3 linked regions of the Homo sapiens genome follow. The protein of the gene in region 2 purifies or fractionates together with the protein of the main gene of each other region. This does not show direct contact. Each region holds a gene or a part of one and is shown on either strand. Other genes may lie near its edges.

What was found.
Region 1: the proteins of BNIP5 (region 2) and GNPAT purify together in Homo sapiens (affinity purification with mass spectrometry; one large-scale study listed by BioGRID and IntAct). This does not show direct contact.
Region 3: the proteins of BNIP5 (region 2) and MMACHC purify together in Homo sapiens (affinity purification with mass spectrometry; one large-scale study listed by BioGRID and IntAct). This does not show direct contact.

What each region holds. Positions count from the first base shown.
Region 1 is NC_000001.11:231,261,562-231,265,211, reverse strand, and holds part of GNPAT (dihydroxyacetone phosphate acyltransferase), read right to left. Parts: intron 2,490-3,650; coding exon 2,360-2,489; intron 1-2,359. UniProt on the Homo sapiens protein: Dihydroxyacetonephosphate acyltransferase catalyzing the first step in the biosynthesis of plasmalogens, a subset of phospholipids that differ from other glycerolipids by having an alkyl chain attached through a vinyl ether linkage at the sn-1 position of the glycerol backbone, and which unique physical properties have an impact on various aspects of cell signaling and membrane biology.
Region 2 is NC_000006.12:36,330,265-36,333,914, reverse strand, and holds part of BNIP5 (protein BNIP5), read left to right. Parts: intron 1-3,220; 5' UTR 3,221-3,224; coding exon 3,225-3,650.
Region 3 is NC_000001.11:45,498,820-45,503,210, reverse strand, and holds the start of MMACHC (cyanocobalamin reductase / alkylcobalamin dealkylase), read right to left. Parts: upstream 2,912-4,391; 5' UTR 2,879-2,911; coding exon 2,798-2,878; intron 1-2,797. Other genes in the region: transmembrane protein CCDC163, read left to right, coding at 3,602-3,679, 3,768-3,866. UniProt on the Homo sapiens protein: Cobalamin (vitamin B12) cytosolic chaperone that catalyzes the reductive decyanation of cyanocob(III)alamin (cyanocobalamin, CNCbl) to yield cob(II)alamin and cyanide, using FAD or FMN as cofactors and NADPH as cosubstrate.

The sequences.
Region 1 (3,650 bases), on a different chromosome or scaffold from region 2:
TTATATTTTATTATTTTATTTTATGAGACAGGGTCTCGCTATGTTGGCTAGGTTGGTCACAAACTTCCTGGCCTCAAGCAGTCCTCCTGCCTCGGCCTCCCAAAGTACTGGGATTACAGGCATAAGCCACTGTGCCTGGCCTAAACTCAAACATTATTAAGAAAGATTTCATAAATGTAAGACACCCCTATGATATTATTATACTTTGACATTAAAATACATAAGAGATACCTAATAGAATTATAGAAAAGAAGGGATTCTGTGGGCCAGGTGCTCACTGGGAGGTTACCTTGTGCTTCTCCATGCACCACTCCCTTTACAAGTAGGCCAGCTAGAGCCAGGGGCAACAGCAGAGCAACATGACAATGTCATGATGTCAATGTCTTTAGTCAGCCATGCTGCTGAGCCTGACAACAGACCAATATGTGCCCTTCATGCTCTGGACAGCCAGGCCAAACCCGCTCTCATCTTTTGCCTACCAGGAAAAAACATCAACCTACTTTTGTTGGAAGAGATTAAATAAGGCAAATCTTGTAAGAAAGGAAGATTGCTACCAGCAGTTTTAAAATAGTCTTTCTCTTCATTTCCCCTAGTTTTCAAATAACTTCCTCACAAGTTTGTTCAGATGAAAATGCTTTTAAAGTGCTTAAGTTCTTGGCAGTTTTAACCTTACCATTCACTGCATTTATTAACAAACGTGTATACTTGAATCCTGGCTTTCCTGGCTACCCTAAAAGGGAGTGGATAAACAACTTATATGCCTTAGCAATCCCACTTTTAGGAATCGATCTTACAGGAATAAAAGCACCAATATAAAAATGTATTATGACATTGTTTATAACAGCAAAACTACTAAATTATGAAATATCCACACTGCTGAATATTATATGGCTATTAAAATTAATGTTAGACATGAAGTTGGACCCTTAACTTACACCATATACAAAAATTAACTCAAAAAACCAAAGATCTTAATGTAAGACCTGAAACCATAAAACTCTTAGGATAAAACATAAGGGAAAAGCTTCATGACCTCGGATTTGGCAATGATTTCTTCGATCTGATACCAAAAGCACAGGGAACCAGGGAACCAAAGAAACAAATAGATCAATTGGACTACATCAATTAAAAACTTCCATGCATCAAATAACACAATCAACAGAGTGAAAAGGTAACCCATGAAATGGAAGATAATATTTGCAAATCATCTGTCTGATAAGGGGTGAATATCCAGGATGTAGAAACAATTCCTACAACTCAACAAAAAAAGCCCCAAACAACCTAATTAAAAAATAACGGACTTGAACAGACATTTCTCCAAAGATATACAAATGGCCAATAAGCACACAAAAAAGATGCTCAGCATCACTAATCATTAGGGAAATGCAAATCAAAACTACAAGGAGATACCACTTCACACTCATTAAAATTATTATAAAACATATCAGAAAATAACAGGTGTTGGCAAGGATGTAGAACAACTGGAACTCTTGTGCACTTTTGGTGGGAATGTAAAATGGTGCAGCTGCTAAGGAAGGCAGTATGGTGGTTCCTCAAAAAATGAAAAAAAATTACCACAAGACCCAGCAATTCCATATATACCATTTTTGTATATATATAAAAAAATGGAAAGCAGGGTCTTGAGCAGATGCATTTCCAACTTCAAAAAGGAAGGAAATTCTGACACATGCTGCAACATGGATGAACCTTGAGGGCATTCTGTTAAGTGAAATATGCCAGTCACAAAAGGACAAGTACTGTATGATTCCACCTATATCAAGCATCTAGAGTAGTTCACAGAGACAGAAAGTAGAATGCTGATTGCCCAGGGTCAGGGGGAGGGTAGAACGGGGAGTGTGTTGAATGGGTACCATTTCAGTTTTGCAAGATGAAGAGTTCTGGAGATGGATGGTGTTGATAGCAGCACAACAATGTAAATGTACTTAATGCCACTGAACTATATTTTTGAAGATGACTTAGATGGCAAATTTGATGTTATATGTATTTTATCACAATTAAAAATAAACTTTAAAAAGTTAGATCTATTTATTGCCTAGAGAGGTAGCCATTAATATATTATCAAATAAAAAAAGCAAAAGGCAGCTAATACCTGTAAGTAGTGCAGTCTCATTTTTTAAGCCTACACCAAAGAACCCTGTGTGCATGAACTCCTGCAGATGTCTGTTCAGGCACAGTAAAGCACAGGACAAAGGACATAACTCAAGTTATTCAGTGCTAGGACTGGAAGAAAGGAGGAGAGGCTATTTTCATCATCATCTTCAAATACCTCAGTACTGCTAGAATATGCCAGTGAACTTTTTAATTTTTACAGTTAAAAAAACAGAAAAACAATACATACCCATTCCTGCTGCTATAACTGGCACAGGCAAATCATAATTGTATAGAAGAAAAGACAACATGAGGAAGTCAATGTAACTTCGATGACTAGGCAGCAGAACAACAGGATGCTCCTGGATGGCTCTTTGTAGCTTGAAAGTAAATGTTACATTTTGAATAATTTCAGTTGTCATGTTATCAAATCACATCTCAAATCAGAAAACGGAAGAATAAGTCTATATTTAGAGGGAATACCCATCCTCTTTTTCTGCCTTTTTGCCATACACATAAACGATTTGCTCTGATAAGGTAAAAGTACTGTTTCTAGTTAAACAATTTCACATAATGCAAGAATATTAAAAATGTAAATTTTTATGGATCAGAATAATAACAGTGATGATCGCTAACATATATTAGTTGGGCACTATATTAGCATCATTTTATATACAGTTATCTTACGTGCTTTGTTTAATACCACATAATTAACAAGGTCTAAGCCTTAGCTTTCTTGTTTGTAAAATGGTCATGCATCCAATAAATGGCAGAGCTGTGAATGGAACCCAAGTCAGTCTGACTTAAAAAGCCAACTGTTAACCACTGTATTGAATTGGTTGGTTGTAGTAAGAGAAAACAAAGCTTCTCTTGGAGAGATTAAAAAAAATCTACAAATTCATAGGACAAGGTGAGAAGAATGGTATTTCTCTATGTGCTGGACTCACTGCCAGGGTGAATGGGTGTCATGTGGCTGGGAGGGATAATTTGAGTTTCCAAATATACTCCTCAGGCCATCAATCTCAAGATTCACTGGTATCCATGTGTTATCTGTTTTTTTGAAATCTAAATGTAACAGAGGCCAGGTAATCTGTGATCATCACTTAAGAAATGGCTCACCACCACCCTTGGTCCCAAACACTGTAACATTCTCTGACAGATTCAGGGTATAAGTCAGCAATCTCGAAAACAGTCAGTAGGAAGAAGAAATATTTGACAGGAAAGTAAATGACTGAATTAAAACAAAATATTAAAAGGGATGAGGAGGAAGGCAAGTGAAGTTAAGAGCTTTCCTAGAAGAAAAAAATATAAAACACAAATAAGTAAAAATACTCTTCATAAGGAAAGCTCTTTATGAAATTAGAAAAGTCATCATTTGGCAATCATTAACATAATAATTAATTCAGGCAAAAATCATCAGTGGGTGCAAAAACGAGTGGGGTAAAGTATGATGCAAAACAGGGTATTTAGCCATTTTCAAAGAGTCTTTTCACAAGATATTCATTAATTATAAAGGGAAAAAATAATAACTTTACAGCAGA
Region 2 (3,650 bases):
TGTGGTTTTGTTAATGAACAGCTTCTCTGACAACCCCATCCAATTTTCCCTGACCACAGGAACATATGGAAAATGCAGAGAGAACCCTGACACCGTTCAGTAAATATTTCTGGTCAGCTTACTCTTTTTTAAATGTGAGCTTAAATCACATAGAACTTCAACCTAAATTTATCTTCTTTTAAGACCATGTGCCTCTGAAGAGAGAGCAGATGCAGGGGAATGGGACATTGCTGTCATCACTGTGTACTCACATCCTTATTCCTGCGCATTCAGAGAAGACCAGAATATTCCCTCTGGGGGCACACACTGCATCTTGTTCATGATTGTATCCCTAGCACTGAGCATAATTTCTGGTGCAGAGTGGGTGCTTATTAAATGTTGAGAGAAATAAGTGAGAACAAACATAAATATTTTCCTCTATGATCTCTTCTCCTTGTCCTACCCTGCATCGTCTTTGGAAACACAACCATAAGGCAGCCAGTCTCTGAGCCTTTCAGGAACATTAGTGAATTTCCATATAAGGTACAGATACATATTGCTAAAAGTTTCCATGTAGCCCAGATGTTCCTTTTAAGGAACATTAAACAACAAATAAGTCCTTTTAAATTGCCTGCCTCCTCCCCGACCTGATTTCTCATTTCCTCCAAGGTCGTCCACGTGTGGACACTCGGCCCCAATGGCCTCTGGCCTCAGCGACCTGGGGCTGCAATACCATCTGGTTTCCTTCCCATACTGGTGCTTGGAGGAGGGAAGGCATCCCAAATGTTCGTGTCACCTTCAAATATGTGTGTTCCCATTTCTTTTCTTCTTTCTCTGTATCTTCTTCACTTTCCTGTGGATCCCACACATAAGAAATCGCAATTATAGATTCTTATTTTTGCCTCTAAGCTGAGCATAGCAATAGAATACATTTTACAGTACATCCCATACCACTAAACATTACTTGGTCAATGCATGCTAAAGCTATAATGACAAATTAGAGCAGGCAACCTGTGGTCCTAAACTCCATAGGACTCTCCAGGGGCTCAGGTTTGGCATTCAAAACCATATTTTATTTTTCTTTTACCTTCCACTGAAGGGAAGAGGCCTTCTGAACAACTCTGGAAAAATTGGAAAGCCCCAAGAGTTTTAGATTAAAGACACACAAATCAAATGCACTGCCCACACCTAGGCGGGCTTGAAATGCTGCCCAGGTGGGAAAGGTTTTTTTTTTGTCATTTTTCATTGGCCGCTGCTTCATTCTGGATGGAGAATGGAAGAGCCCCCACTGCTCTAAGATGAAATTGGCCCGAAAGCACTGATTTCATGTTAACTACACATCCAAAGATACCTTACGTGTTGTGCCATTTACTAAATGTGTTATACATCTATTCATTTGTTTAATAAGTGCTTATTGAGTGGCAGTGATATGCTAGACATTGTTCTAGGCACTCAAAGATAGAAGACCTAGCAAAATAAACACAGGAGATGGAGAGAGACTCAGACAGGAAACAACTAAACACATAAAGACACGACATTGCACACCACCAGGCCGTAGGGTAGGAGGGGAAAGGGTGTGCTGATGGGCAATAGGCAGGGAGGGCCTCGATGGGAAGGTGACAGTTAAGTACAGCCTCAAAGGAAGTGAGGGAACAAACCATGAACAAACTCATTCTTTCCATGAGGGAAGAATGTTCTAGAAAGAGGGACTGGCCAGTGTGAAGGGCCTGAGGCAGGCGGGCCTGAAGGACAGCAAGCAGGGCTGTGTGCGTGGAGTGGAGTGAGAGAGATGTGGTCAGAGGGGTGATGGAGGCTGGGACGTGTGGGGTGTGACAGCCGCTTTAAAGACTTTGAGTGAAAGGGGACCTCTTGGAGGAAGGGAAGTAACTTTTGTTTTAAAAGCCCCCACAGCTGCAAAGGGGAGAAGTTACTGTAAGGAGGGCAAGAGGAGAGCAGGGAGGTCAGTTAGGAGGTGGTGGTAACAGCTCAGGTGAGTGCAGATGGGGACCTAGAGACCACAGGGGGCCGTCAGGGTGAGGACAGGCTCTATGAGAGTGAGGCCAACAGGCTCTGCTGATGGGTCGATGTGGGGGTAAAAGAAAGAAAGGAGGCCAGCAGTGGCTCATGCCTGTAATCCCAGCACTTTGAGAGACCGAGGTAGGTTGATCGCTTGAGCCCAGGAGTTTGAGACCAGCCTGCACAAACACAGCAAGACCCCATATCTATTTTCTAAATAAAATTATTTATTTTTTAAAAAAAGAGAGAAGTCAGGGGTGACTTTACATTTTTGGCTTGAGCAGTTGGAAGAAAAGAGTTGCCACTGACGGAGCTGCCTCGTGGAATATTCATGACAGCCTGTGAGAGAGGGCAGGGCTCAGGCATGCTTCAGATGAGAACACGGGGCCAGAAAAGGTGCCTGAGCTGCCCAAAGTCCCAAGGCTAGTGAGGGGCAGGACCAGGCCTCTGGCTCCGGCTGTATTCGTTTTCCATTGCTACTGTAACAAAAGCCCCCAGACCCAGTGGCTTTGGACAAGATGAATTAATTATCATGCAGTTCTGGAGAAGTCCCACATCAGTCTCGATAGACTAAAACCTAGGTGTGGACAGGGCTATGTTCCTTTCAGGGGCTCTGGAGGTGCGGCTGACCAGCCCTGAGATCTGAGCACAATCTTCCTGTGGTCCAGTTTTATCCTCTGGAAAATGAGAATAATGACCCCCATTCCCCGAGGGTTTTGGGGGAATTTGCACAAGACAACAGCTTTGAGAAATTGTTGACACTACTCACGTTAGTGGGCAGGGTGAATGGGCCCACTGGTCAGCACCAGGAGCCAACTTTGGTGTGCCCAGGAGGCCTCTGCTGAGGGAGCTGTTTGGCCGGGCGAGGTGGCTCATGCCTGTAATCCCAGCACTTTGGGAGGCCGAGGCAGGCGGATCACCTGAGGTCGGGAGTTCAAGACCAACCTGGCCAACACGGTGAAACCCCATCTCTACTAAAAATACAAAAATTAGCCGGGTGTGGTGGCGGGCACCTGTTATTCCAGCTACTCAGGAGGCTGAGGCAGGAGAATCGCTTGAACCCAGGAGGTAGAGGTTGCAGTGAGCTGAGATAGCGCCACTGCACTCCAGCCTGGGCAATAGACCGAGGCTCCGTCATAAAAAACAAAAACAAACAAAACAAACAAACAAACAAATCAAAACAAACAAACAAAAAAACTAAGGGAGCTGTGTGTTTTGGTTGCAGCCCGATGGAGAATCCAAGGTGCCCAAGGAGGCCCCTGGCGGAGAAGAAAGCCAGGTCTCTGGACAGGCCGCAGGCCCCCGGGAAAGGCTCGGAGTCGTGGGACTGCCATTGGCTCTCCCTGCCCACTGCCCCCTCCAGGAAGGCGCTTCACTGGACGACCAGTGATTGGGCCAGACATTCAGACAGCCCAGCTCCATCTGCAGAGGCTCACTGCACCACCGCTGCAGCCCCCACTCCCGAGGAGACCGGAGATTTTCTCCCCAGCGAGCAGAGGCCTTCGCAAGACACCAAGAAGGGGTGGCTGAAGACCATGCTGAACTTCTTCGTGAGGACGGGCCCTGAGGAGCCCAGAGAAAAGGCCAGCAGGAGGCCAAGGGGGAAGGAGGGTATCTCCCAGCATCCGGAGCCCCTGGAAGCAGCAGGGGAGCCA
Region 3 (4,391 bases), on a different chromosome or scaffold from region 2:
GCCAGGCTGGTCTTGAACCCCTGACCTCCAGTAATTTACCCACCTTGGCCTCCCAAAGTGCTGGGATATAGGTGAGAACCACCACGCCTGGCTGCAGAAAGTTCTAATAGGCAGAACCACTAAGAACAATAGAAATGACTGTACTATAGCTAGTGCAATGACAGGGTCAGATAAGGGTCCTCTGAAATTAGAAAAGGCTTCCTTGTGGCCGGGCATGGTGGCTCATGCCTGTAATTCCAGCACTTTGGGAGGCCAACGCAGGCAGATCACCTGAGGTCGGGAGTTCAAGACCAGCCTGACCAACATGGAGAAACTGTCTCTACTAAAAAAAATACAAAATTAGCCGGGTATGTTGGCACATGCCTGTAATCCTACCTACTCTGGAGGCTGAGGCAGGAGAATCACTTGAACCCGGGAGGCAGAGGTTGTGGTGAGCTGAGATCGCACCATTGCACTCCAGCCTGGGCAACAAGAGCGAAACTCCATCTCAAAAAAAAAAAAAAAGAAAAGAAAAGGCTTCCTTGGATGCTAAGTCTTGAAGGCTAGAAAGTCAACTGGTCAACTGTCAGGTTGATGTAGGGAGGAGAATCTGGTGTGCATTTATTTATTATTTATATTTCACCAAAAAACACATAAACTCACTGGTGTGTATTTTAAAAAGAGGTCACAGACTGAGTGCGGTGACTCATGCCTGTAATCCCAGTGCTTTGGGTGGCTGGCCGAAGCAGGAGGATCACTTGAGGCCAGGAGTTCAAGACCAGCCAGGGCAACAAAGTGAGACCCTGAGTGTTGGTGCATGCCTGGAGTCAGCTACTTGGGAGACTAAAGTGGGAGGATCACTTGAGCCCAGGAGTTTGAGGCTGCAGTGAGCTATGATTGCACCACTGCACTCCGGCCGGGAGGACAGAGTGAGACTTTGTCTCTAAATAAATAAAGAATAAAATAAACAAGTCACAGCATAAGCAAACACACTGGCAGAAAATTCCTGGGTATATTTGAGAATTGTCTAGTTTGGTGGAAGTGAAGGGTCTGTAGAGGGAATCAGAGGGAGAGAAGGCTGGAGAGATCAATAGGAGTGAGATTTTGATTGGCTTTGAATACCAATTTAAGGAATATGGATTTAATTTGGTGACAGTGAAGAGCCACTGAAGATTTAAGGAGTAAACTAGCATGATCATTTTTAGATCACACTGGCTGCAGTGTGGAGGAGGGACTGGAGGTAAAATTACAGCAAGGAGGTTATTACAGTAATCCAAGTGAGAAATGGTGGCCTGGACCACAGCATAGATGGGTGGAATACAAGGGAATGGATTTGGGAGATTCAGTAGACAGTCTTATAGGTCTTGGTGGCTGATTGGATGTGGGGGTAGGGAGGTGAGAGGTAGGAGCCTAGGGTGACTGGCAGGGCTGCAGTTGGCTTTGTTCAGTACAAAAGCTCCTAATACCCAGGTCTACTCAACTTGCCAGATAGGCATTCTCACTCTCCCACACACCTGCCATCCACTGAAACGGTGTCTCAAAGAGTTAAAGGTCGATCTGCAACAAATAGCTTTTGTTTTCTCAAAAACCCAGTGTCATAATATTAGCTTCCAGCACATCAGGCATCAAGCCCTTTTACTTGGTAACACCACACCACTATCTCCACACCTTTACTCAAGCTTTTTCTGATATTTGGGATGTACATAACCCTCCTTCCTTCCAATCTATCTTTTCATATATAGCTCAATTCCATTTTTTCTGGCAAGACCAGTCTCAAGCTAGACCCAACCTACTTCTCCCTCTATATCCTCTCCCAGGACTGCTGTGAGCCACTCAGCAGAAGGAATGGGAAGTGGGTAGTCTCTTAAGCATCAGGCAAAGGGCTCAAGCTGAGCTGATTTAGCTTTGTAACTTAACTGCTCAGTGCACAGGGCACTGATGTGGGGAAATGTAACCGTGTAAATGGGGGTCGGGGTGCGGTGCTGAGACTGCTGTGCCAGGCAAGTGTACAAAGTTTCATTACCCAGCCCAGCACTGATGACTGGAAATATCATGAATTATCCTTCTGTTGGTAGAGGGAACAAACCAGCCAATTGTTTGCCTGTTCATCACCAGGAATGCCCTTCCTTCCTCAGCTGACCTAAATGATAGCTATGCAAACCTTCTAGGCTTTGCCCTCTCCTAAATCCTTTAGGAAGTTCCAAGGTGACTTTGCCTCACAGGTCCCTTTCTTCTTGTAAATTATATAGGTGACAATCTGAGCCACACACGCTACAGGTCATATGGTGTCTCCCGTTAACGAATCCGGCATTATATGGTGGCAAAAGGTTAAACATGCGACAACTTTTTTTTTTTTTTTTTTTTTTGACACGGAGTTTCGCTCTTTGTTGCTCAGGCTGGACTGCAATGGCGCAATCTCGGCTCACTGCAACCTCCGTCTCATGGGTTCAAGCAATTGTCCTGCCTCAGCCTCCCGAGTAGCTGGGATTACAGGCATGCACCACCACGCCCGGCTAATTTTATATTTTTAGTAGAGATGGGGTTTCACCATGTTGGCCAGGCTGGTCTCGAACTCCTCACCTCAGGTGATCCGCCCGCCTCGGCCTCCCAAAGTGCTGGGATTACAGGCGTGAGCCACCATGCCCGGCCTCGACCACTACCTTTTTAACCCAAGCCCCCACTGAAACTCTGTCCCTGTTGTCACATGGACACTGGGCTGCAGGAACCCAGGAGGATCAGAGGCTCCCGAGGCCTCACGCCAGTTGCAACGAAGCCAATCATATATTTCGCCCTAGAACAGCAGGAGGGATAAACTAACCTGGAAGGGGTAAACCTCGAAGCCAAAAGGACATAGCGTGTCCTCGATCTTCTGCTTCAGCTCTGCGACTTTCGGCTCCATAGCGCACGTTACACGCTGAGCTTGCTGGGGAATGAAGTCTCAAGGACAATTGGGCCGTTACGTTTTGAGTCAGCTTCGACTCCATTTCCCAGGTAGGAAATGGGTCCAGTAGCGGGACCATATTGCCTATGCGCGATGCATCTTGGGATGCGTAGTTCGTTTCCTCCTTGGAGACAGCCACACGAAATCAGGAAGACTCAGTTTCCCGGCAAGCTACACGGTGGGGGTGTGCATGTACGTGTCTCTTCTAGAGAAAGGTAGTTCCACCGCCTCCATCGCCGGTTGTGTTCGCAAGAGGCGACCTCAGTTTCCCAGGTGGCGCTGCGGCAGCCAGTCCAAAGTCGGACTTTCAAAACCAACCCGAAGTTTTGAACCCGGCGGCGGCAGTTGTCACTGGCACAGGTTTGGCGTGGTGGCGCCAGTGTACTACTTCTGGGGAGGTCTCAACCAGGTTCTGGCACCTTCAATCCCCACCTGATATCTGCGTATCATCACGGTATCCCGCTTTTCCCCCAGTTCCCCAAGAGCGTCCTTCCTTTCCCTAGTCACAGGATCGCAGTTTTGGTCTGATAGTGCATCCACCTACCCCAGTGTTGCATCCCCACTTCCCTCTTTCCATCTAACGTGGTGGCCTTTCCTGGGGATACCTTGGGTATCCCCCGCTAGGAGAGCAAGCACAAGACACCAGGGAGCCAGACCCCTGCCGCTCCCCTGCCACAGGATATGAATACGAGCCTCAGCTGGTTTGAGCAGCTGGATGTGCTTCTCAACGCTACTGATGGAAATGTGGTCCGGAATAAGGTGAGGGGTTGGTGGAGGTCCCCAGTTTGCGTGGGGAGGCTAAGGGACTCTCAGAGTTCATTGGCCTGTGCATCTGTTTCTTTTGTAGCAGTGGCTGTATCCTCTTGGGGTCTCCACAGAGCTCATTGGCCTGTGCATCTGTTTCTTCTGTAGCAGTGGCTGTATCTTCTTGGGGTCTCCACCGCAGGTAAGTAATGTCTCTTTCTACTTCCAAGCCCTTTCTCTTTCTGTGCCTTCCTCCAGTGCCCGTATCATCCATTATTCCTTCCAAATTCCAACTCTGTCCTTTCCTGAACTCTGTTTCCCCACACAGACCCTGCACTTAACCCTTCCTTATTTCCTCAGCCGGGGACCTGGCTGGGACCTGGATTTCCTCTCATCACTTGCCTCTGCAGTCAGGAGTCCAAGCTCAACAGCCTTGGGCTTTAGAGACTCCCATAGTTCCACAAAGGCTGAGCTGCCCTGAGTCCTAGAGCCCATCCTCTCTCTGGGGTGAGGTTGCTATTCTCTGATCCTAATTTCAATGTCAGGCTCAGGTGAGGCTTGGAATCCTTGGTGTGTATATGTGATGTTTGTGTAAGATGAGGATACTAGGGGTCGGGAAAAGCTGTTATACAGTAGTTCATGTGCTTTTTTCTGCCTGGGGAGGTGACAGGCACTAAGGCAGGCAGTGCAGGGCCTGCTAGAAGAGCGAGAGCAGCAGAAGTACCAG